Homo sapiens: one gene and its partner. The protein of the gene in region 1 purifies or fractionates together with the protein of each later gene. This does not show direct contact. Each region holds a gene or a part of one and is shown on either strand. Other genes may lie near its edges.

Region 1 (3,621 bases):
GCTTACCCTATGCATCTCCTCATCTGTATCCTTTGTCATATCCCTTATAACAAACCAGTTCTAGGAGCTGCTCTAGCAAATTAATAGAGCCCAAGGAAAGGGCCATGGGATCCCTGGTTTACATCCAGTGGTTCAGAAGCACAGGTAAAACAACTTGGGGCTTGCAATTGCCATCAGAAGTGGGGGGAAATCTTGGGAACTGAGCCCTCAACATGTGGGAGCTGATGCTATCTCCAGATAGATGGTGTCAGAATTAAATTGAATTAGAGGACACCCAGTTGATGTCTGCTGTAAAAGTGACCGCTTGCTTGTTGGTAGGGAGAAATAACCACATATTCAATCACAGGAGTCTTCTGTGTTGACTGCTGTATTTTTGTCCACTCAAAATATACATATGAAAAGTGATTTACCTCACATCTATTAGAATGATCAAAATTTAAAACACTGATAACACCAAATGTTGATAAGGATGTCCAGTGACAAGAACTGTCACTCATTGCTGGTGGGAATGCAAATAGTACAGCCACTCTGGAAGACAGTTTGGCGGTTTCTTACAACACTAAACATACTATTACTATACAACTTTACTATCCAATCCAGCAACTGTGCTCCTTAGTATCTACCTAAATGAGTTGAAGACCTACGTTCACACAAAAATCTGCACCCAAATGTTTGTAGTTGTATTATCCATGATCACTAAAACTTGAAAGCAACCAAGATGACCTTTAGTAGGTGAATGGATAAACCGACAATGGAATATTATTCATCACTAAAAAGAAATGAGCTATCAAGCCATGAAAAGACTTGGAGGAACCTTAAATACATATTACTAAGTGAAACCTGAAAAGGTTATGTACTGTATGACTCCAACTCTATGACATTCTGAAAAAGGCAAAACCATGGAGAAAGTAAAAGAATTCAGTAGTTGCCAGGGGTCCTGGGGAGCCTCTGGGGGATGAATAGGCAGAGCACAGAAAATTTTAGGGCAGTGGAACAACTCTGTGTTATACTGCAATGGTAGATAAATGTCATTATACATTTGTCAAAACCCATAAGATGTACAATACCAAGAGTTAACCCCAGTGTAAACCATGAACTTTGGGTGATAATGACATGTCAATGTGGATTCATCAATTCCAACAAACATACCATACTGTGTAGAATGTTGATAGTCGGGGAAGCTGTACATGTAAGAGGGCAGAGAGTATATGGGAACTCTCTGTACTTTCCACTCAGTTTTGCTGTGAACCTAAAACTCCTCCATAAAATAAAGTCTATTTTAAAAACTAATATATTAAAAAACAATGTTTGTAAAAGTTAAACGGGATCATTGACATAATGTGATCATCCCACAAGCCTGGTCAACACCTACCCAATTATCCAACACACCATATCTTAGAGCCTTAAACCACGCAAGCCCTTCCTTACACCACCCACTCCACCTACCAAAATTCTAACTGTCCCAACACACCACAGTCAAACTCAACATGCTACCAAGTTCATGAAGCTTTCTTTCCCTGATCCCACCTCTTAACTTCAGGTTCCTTCTTATACCTCTCTGTACCCTGTGACATCATTCTGTCTAGCTTGAGGACTAAGCTCTGATTATTATTTTTTTTTATCTTGCCCAAATTCCTTTCTAAGGGGTCTGGGGAGTCATGCCCTACAAACCATAAATTCTCATCAGATGAGTTTTATTTAACCCTGTATAACGTGACTTACTTTCCAGTCTGACTCAGGCATAACAAGGAAGAAAATCAAAATGTTTTACCCTAAAATATATTTCTTTGCCATACCTTGGAACTGTCCTGCAAAGTCTCTTGTGGGAAAAACCCACATTCTATAGAGAATTCCCTTTCCCCTTTGTTTTCCTTCCTTCCTTTCCAGATCCAGGAGATAATCAATTAAGAGCCAGGCACTCTTTCAGGTCTCATAAGAAACATTTTACAACCTGCTATCTCTGAAGTCCGCTATCTGAGAGCTCTGCAAAATAAAACTTCGTCTCCACAATCCTTTATCTTAACCTGAACATTTCCTTTGATCTTAGGTCTTGAGATAAACTCAACTAATTGTCAACCAGAAAATGTTTAAATTTACCTATAGCCTGGAAGCCCCTGCTTTGGGTTGTCCTGCCTTTCTGAACCAAACCAATGTATTTCTTAAATGTATTTGATTGATGTCTCATGCCTCCCTAAAATATATAAAAACCAAGCTGTACCCTGACCATCTTGGGAACATGCTCTCAGGACCTCCTGAGGGCTGTGTCACGGGCCATGGTCACTCATATTTGGCTCAGAATAAATCTCTTGAAATATTTTATAGAATTTAACTCTTCATCAACAGACTCATGGTATTTAACCAAAACTTTTAATAAAAATGTGACCTTTTAAAAATCAGTGATTATATCTAAAAATTCAAATTTCTTACTATTCTTAAAAAAACAATATGACACTGTTACCAACTGGGAATAGGGGAAAGTAGCAGGGATTGCATAGAGACCCTCTCCTTGTGGCCTTCCCAACACTGAGGCAGAACTGTTGTCATTTATCACTGTCCCTGTGTTGTTTTTCTTCTTCCCTCCCACTTCGCTTACTCCAAGTGTCAGCCTGGCGCCAGTCCCCATGTGAGGTTGTAGCCTTATTTAGTTACTAATACTTGTTTATTTGTCTCTTAACCCTACAAAACTATAAGTTTCTTGAGAGCAAAGACTTGTTTCTCATTCACCTTTATTTCTCCTATACTCCCTCCCATCCAACCATAGTATATATTTATCAGCTATTTCCTGAATTTAGCGAATTATCAATCAACAAAACAGGAAAAATGTTAAAACTTAATTCATTATGAATGCTACTCAAGATTTAGCAGTTGGTAGGACTGCATCTTTACTATATTTAAATTCACTTCAAAACTCAATGATAACCCTTTTTCATATCTAAGTCACAATTAGGCTCTTTTTGAGGGTAGAGTGAATGAGAGGCTGAGATGCCGAAATGGAAGGAAGAAATCACGTGTTAAAGGCCTACTGTGTGCTAGGCACTGGTTGTAGGCTAAATAATAAAATGAGGGAAGGGCAAATCTAGAAATAAAAGAAACGTAAGGGAAGAAACCTATGTTGGAGCAGGTAGGAACAGCATTCCAGGACAGCCAGGATTCTGCAACAAGCAGTTAAAAGTATAGAGCTGCCAGGTCAGGGGATGGTTACTTTGTGTAAACTTTGTAGAACATTTACAACATTCTTAGAAGTGGTGAACTGATGCCACCTGAAGAGTCTATACTGAAGCCTATGACCTTCCCTGTTCCCCCAACTGAGGACTCTTCTCCTTTTAATCAAAGCAGTCAATTTAATTACATCTACATTGAGAAAGTATCACTAGATATCTTTTGCTATCTTGTTTCCTAGGAGGAAAATAGATCATAAAGAAATGTGTCATATAATCCCTGCTGTCAAAACAAAATAAGAAAAATCTGAAATCAGAAATAGTAGATTTCATTTAAGAGTGTAACAGCTTTAATTAAAACCCATAAAGCAAATACTTTGGCCTAACAGTGCTTGACATGTCGTACTGTAAAACCCTTTTAAATTAAATTTCTTAAGATAATGGTAGATTCACATGTAGTTGA
Region 2 (3,621 bases), on another chromosome or scaffold:
TGGGCTCTGGTATGGTCTCAAGGTCTCGGCCCACCACTCAGCATCAACCCGGCACTTGCGGGTCACTGTCATCCAGACTGGGTCGTACCTCTGTGTGACATCTCGGACCCAGCCGTCACTGTCAATGCCCACCACATAGGTCATGGGCTTGGTGGCGTACTTGTAACAGGTCAGAGGCTGGCCCACCACACCGTGCACACAGTCTACACATACCCACTTTTCCTCCTGCTCACAGAACACCTCTAGCCACTGGTCTATACCAGCTATGCTTCTTTTTTCTGCCTTCTCACCATCGCTGCACATTTTCTTGCCTCTTTTACTGCTTGAAGAGCTTGAGGATGCCGCTGGCAAGCTTGGGTCCTTACGATGGCTCCCACGATGGGTCCTGGAGGCACTCTTGGACCCAGCCTTTGTCCTCTGAGGAGCGGGGGCTTTCCTCTGCTTTGGAGGGCCAGGTTCGGAATCCTCATCAGAGGGATCAGAGGCTTCTCCACTGGAGAGCTCAAAATCAGAGCCGCTGCCAGCCTCATCACTCCCACTCTCCTCTTTATAAGACACCCTGGAGGCCACCCGCCGCTCCCGGCCATGCGGACGTCGCTGGGTTGCCTTCTCCTGCTTGTCTCCTGGGCCCTCATCTTCCTCGCTGGAGGAGGGCTTGCTCCGTTTCTTTCTGCCTCCCTTGTTCCTCTTCCCTTTGGCACTTGGCCTGCAGGTGCCCTTAGCAAAGGTTTCCTCTTGTTTGGTTCCTTTGCTGGTCTTTGGTTTGGTGTGGTTTTCTAGAACTTGGCTGGAAGTTTCTGAGGAGCCTCCTGGATCCGCAGTCAATCTTTCCTTGGAAGGTTTCTTTCCCTTAAACAGAATAAGAAATTTTGCTTTTTTTTCTCCCCCCTCTTTTGCTAATGATATGATAGAAATCCTGTAATCTAATAGGGTTAAGTCACCAGCTAGAGAACCAATACATCAAGATGTCCCCAGCTCAGACAGTGATCAACCAGCTATCCTTCAGGGTTGTATGTATGTATTGGCTAAAATCTGTAGCATCTTAGATAAGGCCACAGTATAATTCTTTTCACCCTAACTGTAAAGAGAAAAGAACATGGGATTTGGACAGCCAAACATGGGTCTGAATTCCAGTTCTAACTCTTATTGGTTACGTAAATTAGGTAAATTACTTAACCTCCGAGTTTCAGTTTCCTCAGCAGTACTACTACCCACCTTGGACATACGCATTTTGCAAACAAATACTTATGGACTTAATACAGCTGTAGTTTTAAGAATACAGATATTATGAAAATCAGCTTCTAGACCATCAGGCTTCAGACAATGCCAATACCCCAATGAGTACAGCATTTAGCTTCTTGAAGCTAACCCAGACCACCTCAAAATCCACAGTGCTTCACTCATCAGCACTCCACGGAGCAAGCAAGGACAGGCACCATTCCACACAATTTACAGAACAGAACAAAAGCAGCACTGGGCCGAGGCCTCTCACAGGCCACTCTGCACACGTGAAGTTCAGGCTGCTAGATACCCACTCACATGCCCAAGTCTTCCCTAACACAGGGTATGTGCAAGGCTCGAAAGAACCCACACTCCGTGAATACCAGCTCTTAAAAAATATAATAATGATCAATTTTTTTAAGTGTGACAATTTCCTGTCAATTGCTCCTCTTCTCTGGCAGCCCTGCGCACCTCACCTTTGCTGTTGCTGACTTCAGAGGAATTGGCTGTAGAGACAATACCAGCCGGGTCAAGAGCTGCAGAGCCCGGAGAATCAGTAAGAATATCTATGATGAAAAGGAAGAACATAGTTATCCTAAGAAAGTAATTAAAGATGTAATGAGTTCAATGTTGTTTGTTATGGTGCTTGTTCAAGACAGGGAAAAGCTGGAAACAGCCAGACTGTCTAACAGTAGGCGACGGAAACTCCAGACACTGTTAAAAACGATGATGCAGAAGTTTATCTTCGTAGAAGAACAGGAACATGCTCATCATATATTAAAGGAAAATAGAAGTTTTCCTTTAAAAAGTATGATGTGATTACATTTTTATAAGAAAAATATGTATATATAAATTTAGACATACACGTATATTTGAAAAAGCATCCATATACTGGGTTATGGGTGTTTACATGCTTTTTTTCTCTGCTTACCTACCTTCTGATTGTTCTGTAGTCAATATGTGTTGCGTTTGTGACTAAAATAATAAAATGAAATACCACTTTGGGAAGAAGAAGTAGAAAGTATCATTATCGTCAGATCACCAGGTCTGTTCCCTGTTTTCCAATTTTCCCCACATTGAATCTTTAACTGAGTCTGCAGCTCTGAAAGCTGTTAACTTGGAAGTCTGGGAGCCCCTCAGGGGACTTAACTCCAATGGCAACAGTGATAATGTACTCGGCCAAGGCCTTCCTACACGGGTCTCCAGGTCCCAGCATCTCTCCTTGATTACTGCCACAGCCTCGGGAGAAAGTCCGGTGTGAGAAGCCATTGTTATGGTGAGAAAAATGATTGCTTTTGCCTTGTTTCTTCTGCGGCTAAAAATTTCCAAAGTGTCAAGGTCATGAAAGACAGGGAAAGCCCAAAACACTGTCACACACTGGAGGAGACTAAGGAGACATGATGACTAAATACAAACTGGTATCATGGAACAGAAAAAGGATATCAGTGAGAAAACGTGGAAAATCCAAATAATGTCTGTAGTTTAGCTGATGGCATTGTACCAGTATTAATTTCTCAGTTTCTTCTTGTACAGCATGGCACAGGAGCACAGGTCCAGAAGTCTGGATAACTAAGTGTTCACCACTAGCTGAGTGACTTCCCTAAGCCTGGATTTCTGCATCTAGAATAATCCCTGCCTCGGCTTCCTCACAGGACTCTAAAGAGGATTAGACAAGATAATGCAGGTGACAGGACTCTGGAAACAGTCTAGTGCTACCCAAGCATACACAGTCACCACCTTTAGTAAGAAATCTATCAATGTACATTGCTGAGGAAAAAAATCAGGTTACAGAACTGTACGATCCCTACAAATTAGATAACATAGAGAAAATGGACAAAATCCCAGAAACATACATATATGACCAAACCTGACTCAAGAAGTAATGGAAAATCTGAACAGATCTGTAATAACAGATCGAGTCAGAACTCAAAAACCTCCCAACAAAGAAAATGTCTAGGACTAGATGACCTCACTGGTGAATTCTAGCAAATATTTAAAGTGGAATTTACCTCAATCTTTCTCCAACTCTTTCAAACGTTAGAAGAGGAAATATTTTTTAACTTGTTCTATGAGGCAAGCATTACCCTGACACCAAAGCCAGACAAATACATCACAAGAAAATAAACCAATTTATGAATATAGATGCAAAAATCCTGAATAAAATACTAAAAAACAAATTGAACATATGAAAAGGCTTATACAACATGACCAAGTGGTACTTATCCTAGGAATGCAAGGATGGTTCAACATAAGAAAATCAATCAATTAAATATACATTAATAGAATGAAGGAAAGAAAATCCAGAGGATCATTTCAACTGACAAAGAAAAACGCACCTGAGACAATCCAACAGGCTTTCATGATTAAAAAAAAAAAAAAAAAATTCAGAACACTAGGAAT

What was found.
Region 2: the proteins of APLF (region 1) and XPC purify together in Homo sapiens (affinity purification with mass spectrometry; 3 studies listed by BioGRID and IntAct, with this or other methods). This does not show direct contact.

The regions. Positions count from the first base shown.
Region 1 is NC_000002.12:68,470,511-68,474,131, reverse strand, and holds part of APLF (aprataxin and PNK-like factor), read right to left. Parts: intron 1-3,621. UniProt on the Homo sapiens protein: Histone chaperone involved in single-strand and double-strand DNA break repair.
Region 2 is NC_000003.12:14,158,044-14,161,664, forward strand, and holds part of XPC (DNA repair protein complementing XP-C cells), read right to left. Parts: intron 1,788-3,621; coding exon 1,698-1,787; intron 850-1,697; coding exon 1-849. UniProt on the Homo sapiens protein: Involved in global genome nucleotide excision repair (GG-NER) by acting as damage sensing and DNA-binding factor component of the XPC complex. Has only a low DNA repair activity by itself which is stimulated by RAD23B and RAD23A.